2 separate regions of the Homo sapiens genome follow, and region 2 is linked to region 1. Evidence: fine-mapped expression QTL. A gene starts in region 1. The other region holds a variant in brackets. All regions are shown on one strand. Distances are between the middles of the regions. Region 1 holds the start of TTC32 (tetratricopeptide repeat domain 32). Region 2 has its middle 88 kb from the start of LINC00954.

Evidence for each region. PIP is the estimated chance that this variant, and not a neighbour inherited with it, causes the effect.
Region 2: its variant is the best candidate, but not a certain one, in a credible set for the expression of TTC32 in lymphoblastoid cells after a statin (CAP, PIP 0.75).

The regions. Positions count from the first base shown.
Region 1 is chr2:19,899,504-19,904,882 of GRCh38, forward strand. It overlaps TTC32 (tetratricopeptide repeat domain 32), which reads right to left and starts at 2,480. Exons shown (of 3, transcript NM_001008237.3): 1 at 2,203-2,480. The coding sequence starts at 2,351. RefSeq lists enhancers at 1,441-2,322, 1,573-1,762, 1,903-1,962, 2,043-2,142, 2,323-3,203 and 1 more.
Region 2 is chr2:19,778,038-19,783,416 of GRCh38, forward strand. No RefSeq gene overlaps it. Among named protein-coding and RNA genes, the nearest start is that of LINC00954, 88 kb to the right of the region's middle. The variant A/G (reference allele first, on the strand shown) is at 2,690.

The sequences.
Region 1 (5,379 bases):
TCATGTGGAAATTTTGTTTCATATTTTAAAGAAATGGACTAACAGTTGAAGCCGAAATTTTCTGTAATATTAAAATTTTTGTAATGATAGTATTTATTATAATGGAATTCATTCAAGTTACCTAACCCAAATGTGAATTTTTAGGATTTGCTAACTTTCGCAAAAAAAAATATTTTTTATATATATATAAAGTGTGTGTATATATATTTTTTATATATAAAGTGTGTGTATATATATACACACACACTTTGGAAATTAGGTTTATGACTAAAGCTATACTTTAGATATTAAAAGAAAACGTCACAAACCATTCAGAATGAAAGGCATTCAAAAATTGCAAATATTGTTTCAAAATGATTTAGTGACCCAATACTTAGAAAATAAATGTAAGCTCCAAAAGATAAATTGAAGGGAAAAAGTTGAAATGACAGAATTCAGTTTCAATCCTTGAGTTCCTAGAATTTTATCAAAAGCTTATTTTACAGATGAAAAACTGAGGCTGAGACATTAGCCATGTGGCAGTGCCAAGACTGGAATTCAGGCATGATGAACTCCCTTCTACTGCGCTATGACAAACTGTCTTTCCTGTGCTGGTAAGGCATAGCTATTATATATGCTACAGACACTTGTGTTCTTAGGCTGAGAGGTGCAAAGAAGGAAGAATAACAAGACTAGACAGCAACAGCATACCTGATGCTGATAAATACTTTTTAAAATCTACTAGGTAAGTCTACTCTTAGAGCTTGAAACATGAATAGTTTCGCTTTCTATGTTTACTTATCTTTTTTATGGGGGAGGTGCACTGAGGAAAGTAGATGGTATCATCTTATTGCCTGTTCAGAAACTTCTATTATTATTCTTGTGTGTTATTGAAATGAGAAGGCAATTTTCTTTCTGGTTTAATTCCATGTAGCGTAACAAACAGGGTAAGAATCAAGTCCTTAGTGTTTAGTTAAGCCTCATACAAAAGACAAGCTGGCATCCTGTCCAGAAAACTCAAATCCACAACAGACAACTCACAACTATTCAAAAAGCTGTTCAACCAACCCCTCTGTTCTTTTCTCATCCTGATCCACTCCATACCATCAACAAGCCCAGTCGAGGCAAGACTTGGAGTAAAAACAAATGCTACACATCCAGGCACAAGCCGAAAAGATGCTTTGGGCAAGCAGACAGTAACAGGTGAAGCCGCTCACATCACAAAGAGAAAGTCAGCGAATCGTTATGTGCTTCCTGGTGAAAGTACACACACCCACCTAAAAAGTATTCTTGCCATGATATTGAATCTGAATTCAATTGGATCAAACCTCAAGGTTTAACCACCAATTCACAGCAATATGAGACAGATGACCACATTAAACGACAGAAGAGATTCAGTCAGCAAGTCCAAAACACGGAAATTCAAAGGACACAAGAATCGGTTTCCTCAACAAATAAAGAGGGGAAGGTGGAGAAGAGACTTAAAAAGACTTGATGTGTATCCTGACTTGAACTAACTGCGAAAAGGGAACCAAAGAACAAAACACCTTATTAGTCGATCAGAATGGTTCCAACACTGACGACTTGATATTAAGTAACTATGTGATGATGACATGGTGGTTCCTTCTGAAACATCCATGGATGAATACAATAGGTAAACTGATAATGCTTAAGCCAAGTGATAAACACCTAGACGTTCGTTATGCTCTCTTCCACATATTTAAACGTTTTTCACAAGTGAAAAACACCACCAAGAGCCTGCGCCGTGACACTGAGATGGGAGTCGCGGTACTGTGGCCCTACGCAGCCGTGACCCCTTCCCTTCCCAGGTCGCGGATTTCCCGCCAGCTAAAATCACGAGTGGAAAATTCCTATCTGTCCTAAGTCTCTGGGTGCGAATGAGGAACGTGGAAGGAGAGACGGCGGGGTGAGAGGCGGCGGCCCGCGCCCGAGGATCGCGCAGAGGGCTTGGTTCCCGGAAATCTCTCCGCACCGTCGCGGCAGCTGGCTCCTCACGGGTGGGCTTCTCCCCGCGTTCTCCGCCGCCCTCGTCCTAGGCCTCGCCTAGGCCTTTCTAGAAAGACGAACGTCCGCCCGCTCAGTCCTAGTGCTGGGTTATGACAAGCGCCGACCGTGAGCTCCAGAGGCAAAGATAGGAGCCCAAACAACCCCAACGTCGCCTCCACCCGGGGTCGCCGCGGCCCCAGGTCTCGCGATAGTTACCTCCCGGGACTCTCGTCGCTGGAGGCCGCGCAAGCGCACCGGCGAATGTAAGCGGAGTACAGTGCCTCGGCCTCCGCGTACTCTCCATTGTTGAAATGAGCCTGGGCGAGTGTTAGGGTTGCGTGGCTTTCTTGCCGCTGTCCTTCCATAGCAGCCAAGGCCTAGTTTTCGGTGTAGAATGGGGGTTGACCTCCGAGCGGTTAGAGGTGGCACCACAAAGCCACTTCCACACCCTGGAATCTACCTTGACAGCCAACCTTGGCGCTAGGTTTGTGCCTTATGGGGATCCGTCGTCTCGCGAGATAACGGTTCCGCTGCTGGCGGGGCGTTTGCAGTGGCCCTTGTGAACTATGTTTCTGCCGTTACCAGTGTTGGACCCGCCTTCCTCTTTTCCTAGAAAAGGCGCAGATGCGTGGTCGCAAACTGATTTCCAAGTCCGTTGTCTGATGCTGCGAGACACTATCCGTTTGTTACAGCGAATTGGGGGCCGATGACGCTGGAGGTGGAAGAAGCCGCGGTTCTGTTTCTTAATGGCGAATTAGCCTGCGGACGTCCTGTCATTCCCTTGCCTTTTAGCGTCCCAACTTAGCAAAACTCCGCGTTTAGGGTGTTCTGAGTAGGCTTTGTCTACCCTGAAACGCTTTGTGTCGACATTCCACCAGGTCTGTTCCACGGTCCAAACTTCTCTACCTTTTTTGACCCTCTAGAATTGTGTTACGATTAGTAGTATATTGTGTCGAGAGTCTGGGATCTTTGATGTTAGTTATATTCCCTGGCTGTTTATGCCAAAGGGAAATCCAAATAGTAATTTATTACGTACATTACGTATAATTCAAATTAAAATTTTGTAAGAACAGTTGCCAACCACGCTACCCTACATGCCTGCTGTGTATCTTCTCGGCGTCCCTCGATTCTGTTTTGCTTCCCAAAGTACTTGAGCCCTTTCCGTCATAAAAAGTAAAGATGAAAAATATATTTGGAGCATGATACTTACATGCGGAAGTCTTAACAGGACATAAATTGTGTGCTTTTGGCTGCTTTCATTAGATTTTTAATTTTTTCCTTTTACCACCACTGAAAAAAATACAAATACAGTGGATTAAGGTTAAATTAAAAAGCACTAGTAGAAATTAAAAGATTGCAAGACTACAAAAAAATAAACTGGCATTTCTGGTGTAAGCAAATGGACAGCTCAATAGAACAAAAGCCCAGAAACATACCTCAAATAGGCTGTATTTTGTAAAAGACATGTAACATATATGGGGAAAGGACAGATTATTCAAATGAGTGCTATTGGGAGGATTAGTTAACCATTTGGGGAAAAATACATTTAAGCATTTAAGCTCCCAATTGACATAATATTCATTCCAGGTGAATTAAAAGATTAAATAAATAAGATAAAAAGCTTTTTTTTTTCAGTTCCCATTTATTTTTGCCTCTTGGAGCAATGTCATCTTTTCAATATGAAAAAAACAAAACAAAAAACAAATCTGAAGTACAGGATAGAACAAAACCAAGTGTGTTGGGGGAAGCAACAGCAAAGGGAAGACAAGATGTTGCAAAAAAAAAAATGGAGGGGGGATTCCCCTCTCCTCTGGGGAATGACTCAAACACTGATGTGGCAGCGTACACTATTCTACATAAAGCCAGGGATGTTAATCCTTTTGGGGGATAAGAAAAAGTGGAGATGGCCAGGCTCTGTGGCTCATGCCTGTAATCCCAGCACTTTGGGAGGCCTAGGCGGGCAGATCACCTGAGGACAGGAGTTTGATAACAGCCTGGCCAACATGGCAAAACCCCGTCTCTACTAAAAATGCAAAAAATTAGCTGGGCGTGGTGGCGGGTGCCTGTAATCCCAGCTACTCATGAGGCTGAGGCACAAGAATCCCTTCTGGGTGGAAGTGGTTGGCAGTGAGCTAATTTTTGTATTTTTTGTGGTGATGGGTTTCCCCATGTTGTCCAGGCTGATCTCCAACTCCTGGGTTCAAGACATCTGCCCACCTCAGCCTCCCAAAGTGCTAGGACTACAGGCATGAGCCACCGCACCTGACTAGAAGTTTTGCTTTGTTCTGTTCAAGGAATAACAGGAATATTTATGTGTCTAAAAACCAGTGATCTAAGAGGAAAATAGCAGGATATGTAATGGAAATTGGGGATTTGGGAAGGGGGTTTCTAAATAGGAGTAAGATTCTTAACCTTTTTTGTGCTATGGCACCTTTACAAGTGTGGTGAAGCCTATGTCGTTTCAATGTTTTCAAGTGTTTTTAAAACATAGGATTACAAAGGAAAGGAATTATATTAAAAAACAGTTGGAATATTAACAGATTTATTAAAAAGTAAAACATTTATTAACATTAAATATCAAGAACAAATGGCAAACACAAAACTAGCAGAGGAAGAAAATAATAAAAGATCAAAACACAGATAAAACAAAAATGGAATCAACAAAACCAAAAGTTGGTTCTTAAAAAGATTAAAAAAGTTAATAAAACTTGAGCTAAATTGACTACGAAAAAGGAAAAGACTCAGATTACTAAAATCAGAAATGAAAATGGGAACATTACCATCAATTCTACAGAAATAAAGAGGATTATAAGAGAGTACTATGAACAATTGTATGCTGAAAAATGGGAGTAACTACATGAAATGAGCAAATGCCTAGAAACAAAAAACCTACGAAGATTGTATCATGAAGAAATAGAAAATATGAATAGACGTGTGTATTAGTCTGTTCTCACACTGCTAATAAAGACGTACCCAAGACTGGGTAATTTTTTTGTTTTTAAGAAAAAAGAGGTTTAATGGACTCACAGTTCCACGTGGATGGGGAGGCCTTATAATCATGGCAGAAGGCAAACAGCACGTCTTACATGGCAGCAGGCAAGAGAGAATGAGAGAACAGTGAAGGGGGAAATCCCTTATAAAACCATAAGATTTTGTGAGACTTAGTCACTACCATGAGAACAGTATGGGGGAAACTGCCCCCATGATTCAGTTTTTTCTCCCACCGGCTCCCTCCCACAACATGTGGGAATTATGGGAGCTACAATTCAAGATGAGATTTGGGTGAGGACACACACAAACCATATCAACCTGTAACTTGTAAGGAGATTCAATCAGTAATCTAAAAATAACCTCTTGACAAAGAAAAGCCCTGGACCTGATGGCTTCACTGAT
Region 2 (5,379 bases), 120 kb before region 1:
ATTTCTTTCGGGAAGAGAATTCATCCTAAGGCAAGACTCAGCAATGGAGACTTAGATATGAAATTTCCACATCTTAGCAAAGGAGTGATTCTGAATGTACTCTGGCTCTGATCCTCAGATCTCTTCCCCATCTAGTCCTACAGATTTATGTCTGTTGTCTTTAAACTTTTTAAGACAAGCTGGTAACTGGAAAGGGCACAGGCCAGCCTTCAGTTTCAGGCTAGGAGGGCCCCTGCGCATCAGTGCTGCAGCTAACAAGGACCACAGTTCCTGATGAGAGGAGTCAGGTAGCAGGAGTGACCACGGGAGACTGTGGAGCCCACAGAAGATGACAACAGAGTCCAAAGCCATGTTCAGATGGCATGCCAGGACCCCATGGTGGGAGGGAAACTCAGTGATGGGGAGGCAGTTCCTGGAAGAAACAGAAGCACAAAGTGGCTACCAGACATGCTCAGGAGCACACAAGAGACATCCAGGGGAATCCAGAAATATTCAGTGGAAACTTTGCAAGGGAGTCAAGACCCTATAAACAGATGGGAAGGTTAGTAAAATTCTGATTATTATTATTAATATGAATTTATCCATATGCACAAGTTAGAAAATTGATAGAATCTCAAGTCATAATAGAAAAAGCATGGTTGATGGACTTACTCTTTTGACAGCCTACACGGGCCTTCTGTGGACTTACTTTCCTGATACAAAGATGGGAATTGCTGTTTGAAAACAGGTGAGTACAGGCTTAGCCACTTCTCCATAAGCCACTGGGAGTGAGCCCTTGACCCCTGAATCATTTGGGTAATTCAGCATCTGGGCTGCAGGTGAAGAGGGACTTTGGTGAGAGCACCTAGATGCCATTTCCATCACAGGGTACTAAAGGGGTCTTTAGGGGTCTGTGTGGGCTAGAGACCCAGCACCTTCCTGCTGAGCAATGGTAAGTTATTTGTGATCACTGTCTCCCGAGCCATCATCCTCAACCTTCAGCTCCTCCTTCCCCTGCCCACAAAATCTTGGGATATGAGAGAAGGATCATGTTGATCACAGAATGGTAGCAGAGCACCATTCATTCATTCAATCATTCACTATTTAGTAAATATGTCCCACATGTCAGGCACTAACCAGGCTCCAACTCGCACTAATGAACAATACAGTTGTGCTCCCTGCTCTCAGGGAGCTTACAGTCTAGTGGGGCAGACAGGCTTTAAACAAGGAGGCACAAAAGAACCACAAAGTGTGATCGGGATTTCAAAGGAAAAGAACGGGTCTCTATAGGAGAGGACAACAACAGAAAAACTGCTCAGGATTAGGGTGTCATGGAAGCCCCTTGCAGAAATGCTACTTATCCTGAGATGTGAAGACAAGTAGGGTTGGTGTGGGGGAGAGCGTGGCTCAAGGCAAAAAGACCTTAAAGCCAAAAGGAGGATCCTGCCCCTGAAAGGAGCCGTGGAACAAAGCATCATTTGCAAAGAGAAGAGCAGCAAGAGAGGGGGTCAAAGAGGAGTCTGGACCACCAGAATGAAGCCTTGGAGGCCATAGCAAGGGCTGCACATTTTGTCCTCGTGCAAAGGGAAGCCAAAAAGGGACTCTACACAGAGAAGTTACATGACAATTTATTTATGTAACCATCAGTCTGGCTGCTTGGGGACGGTAGGTTGGATGGGGCTCTAAAATAGAATCAAGGAGATCAGTAAGTTGCAGAGAAGTTCGAGAGAGAGATGATGGCAGCTAGGCTAAGGTAGGGACCATAGTAAAGAAATGGATAAGTTTGAAAATATTTGAAGATAGCATCAACAGAATTGGTGATGAATGAGTATGAGGACAACCAAGGGGGAAGCAGGGAGGATGATGCCTCAGTTTTCCAGCGGAGTAGCTGGGCAATTAGAGATGCCATTTATTGAGACTGAGACTGAGGTGGAGCAGGTTTGAGAGAGAATAGCAAGTTCTTCCTTTGGAGCCTCTTAAGTTTGAGCCTGTGAGACTTCGAAGTGGAGATGCTAAGAAGGCAACTGTCATGCGAGTTTCAAATTCAGAAAATGGAAGAATTTAGGAGTTGCTGGCACATAGTTGGACCCTGGGGCATGGGACGCCTGTTCAAACTTTTGAGGTATTTGCCCAGTTCACAATCACCCAACCCCACAGCAACGCCTGCAGGTAGGAAGGCACAGCGCCACTGCTCTCAGCCCACACCTTTTCACTTTTGTCACCCTCTCCTTAAAGGCCTCCATTATTCCTTGTTACCCAGAAGATAAAGTCCAAATATCTTAGCCTGCAATTCAAGGCCTTCTGGGATCTGGCCTCCACCTTCCTTATCTCCCTATTGCCTTACATGTGTCTCTGCACCAGCAAACTGGCCTCTTGACTGTTCCTGACACACCAATCCCTTCCAGCCCGCACACCTTTGCTCACAGGGGCCCTTACCTGGGCTTCCCTCCTCCCTATTCTACAATCAAATACTACTCAGGGCAAAGAGGATTGGAAGTGCTGATCACAAACACAAGATATGGGATGAGCTTCAGTCTAGAGGAGGTTCCAGCAAAGGACAGGGCATCACACCCTGGGCCACCTCCGTGAGCACAGAAAGGATTCAAGGCAACATGACTCTCTTTACCCATCTGCTAAATGGAGCTGAATCAGGCTAGTTTTTCTAGGCAAAAAACAGGTCACAAAATGTCCAATTTTAAGATTATTCTCA[A/G]TGTCTCTTTGCCAGGTTACCCTTATCTGAGCAAACAGAATTCATTTCCAAAATCAACTCTCCATAAATTGTATTTGGGAGAAACCCTTACATAACTTTAGATATAATTAAGGGGAAAACAGAAAATGGGGGTGGGTGGGCAAAACGGTATGGAGAAGCTGATTGTACCCATAGATTGAAAGGATTCTATTCATAGATTAAAAGCTGGCTTTTGGCCTTATTTAAAAAAAAAAATTCTTCCCATTAGGGTGCTTGAGATGCCTAGAGGTAGGGTCGGAGATAAATCTGGTACTTACCATGACAGGCTGTGGAAGGAGGATGCCAGCTGGCCCTATAGACAGATTCTGCTTCATGGCTTTAGGACCAGTAGTTGGGGAGCCCAAGGCAATGCCCATGGCAACAGATCACCTGTGCATTTAGGCAGTAGCTTTTCGTCCTTGTCTTTGGTGCTCACTGCCAGCTGGCATTACCTTCATGGGCTCTTCTTTCTGATGGGGACTGGAATGGAGGAGAGGGCTTCCCACAGGATAAAGTACTCTCTGCCTACCTCTCCAACTTCATATAGACCACTCTCTCCCTGGCCCCCAGAGCTCCAGCTGTTTAAATCTCTCAGTTTCTTGAACCCACCATGCCTGTTCTTGTCCAGGCACTTTTGCTCTGCTGTTCCCACTGCTGCAAAACACTCTGCCCCTTTTCTGGGCTCCCTGGTGATATGCTAGCCTTTCGTGACCTCCTGGATTAGGGTAGGGGTCCTCTTCAGTTCTCTGGCCTCACCCTACACCCTCACACCCTGCTTCTCACTCCTCCAGGCTGCTGACCTTGCCACACCTCAGGCTTATAGAGGGAAGACCTGTGTCTGCCTGGGGCACAGTGGCCTCCGTGGTGCCTAGACACGGTGATGCTTCCTGCATGTTTACTGATAAAGATGTGAAGGAGAGTGCAAACTGCACTCAGCTCTTCTCTCATTCTAAAGAGCCACAGGAAAAGGTCAAGGCTCTGAGATTAACCGGGTGAGCCTCAGAGGTCATTGGATATGTCAAGATCGAGAAGTAGAGGATTCTCACATGAGAAATGAGAGTCATGGAAGTTAGCTGCAAAACTGTGCAAACTTTTTGTACTAGCAGATTCAGTCTTCCCATCCAGAATGGAGGTGTCTTTGTGGTGGACTGTCTCTTCCTGCTAGTAACTCTCCCAGGGTATAGTAATGATATGGTTTGGCTGCGTCCCCACCCAAATCTTATCTTGAATTGTATTCCCATAATTCCCACATGTTGTGGGAGGGACCCAATGGGAGATAATTTGAATCATGGGGGCAGTTTCCCCCATATTGTTCTTGTGGTAGTGAATAAGTCTCACGAGATCTGATGGGTTTATCTGCGCTTTCTGCTTTTGCATCCTCCTCATTTTCTCTTGCTGCTGCCATGTAAGAAGTGCCTTTTGCCCCCCATCCCGCCATGATTCTGAGGCCTCCCCAGCCATGTGGAACTGTAAGTCCAATTAAACCTCTTTTTCTTTCCAGTCTCTAGTATGTCTTTATCAGAAGACATAAACAGACTAATACAGTAAATTGGTACCAGTAGAGTGGGGTGTGGCTGAAAAGATATCTGAAAATGTGGAAGCAACTTTGGAACTGAGTAACAGGCAGAGACTGGAAAAGTTTGGAGGGCTCAGAAGAAGACGTGAAAATGTGGGAAAGTTTTAAACTTCCTAGAGACTTGTTGAATGGCTTTGACAAAAATGCTGATAGTGATATGAACAATAAGGTCCAGGCTGAGGGGGTCTCAGATGGAGATGAGGAACTTCTTGGGAACTGTTAGCAAAGAGACTGATGGCATTTTTGCCCCTGCCCTAGAGATCTGTGGAACTTTGAACTTGAGAGAGATAATTTAGGGTACCTGGCAGAAGAAATTTCTAAGCAGTAAAGCATTCAAGAGATGACTTGGGTGCTGTTAAGAGCATTCAATTTTAAAAGGGAAACAGAGCATAAAAGTTTGGAAAATTTGCATCCTGACAATGCGATAGAAAAGAAAAATCCATTTTCTGAGGAGAGATTCAAGCCTGCTGCAGAAATTTGCTTAACGAGGAGCCCAATATTAATCCCCAAAACAATGGGGAAACTGTCTCCAGGGCATGTCAGAGGTCTTCAAGGCAGCCCCTCCCATCACAGGCACAGAGGCCTAGAAGAAAATAGTTTCCTGGGCCGGGCCCAGGGTCCCTTTGCTGTGTGCAGCTTAAGGACTTGGTTCCCTGTGTCACAGCTGCTCCAGCCATGGCTGAAAGGGGCCAACATAGAGCTCGGGCCATGACTTCAGAGGGTACAAGCCCCAAGCCTTGGCAGCTTCCAAGTGATGTCGAGCCTGCCAGTGCACAGAAGTAAAGAATTGGTGTTAGGGAACCTCTGCCAAGATTTCACAGGATGTATGAAAATACCTGGATGTCCAGGAAGAAGTTTGCTGCAGGGGTAGGGCTCTCATGGAGAACCTCTGCCAGGGCAGTGCAGGAGGGAAATGTGGGGTTGGAGCCCCCACACAGAGTCCTTACTGAGGCACCACCTAGTGGAGCTGTGAGAAGAGGACTACCATCCTCCAGACTCCAGAATGGTAGATCCACCTATAGCTTGCACCACGTGCCCAAAAAAGCCACAGACACTCAACACCAGCTCATAAAAGAAGCTGGGAGGGAGGCTGTAC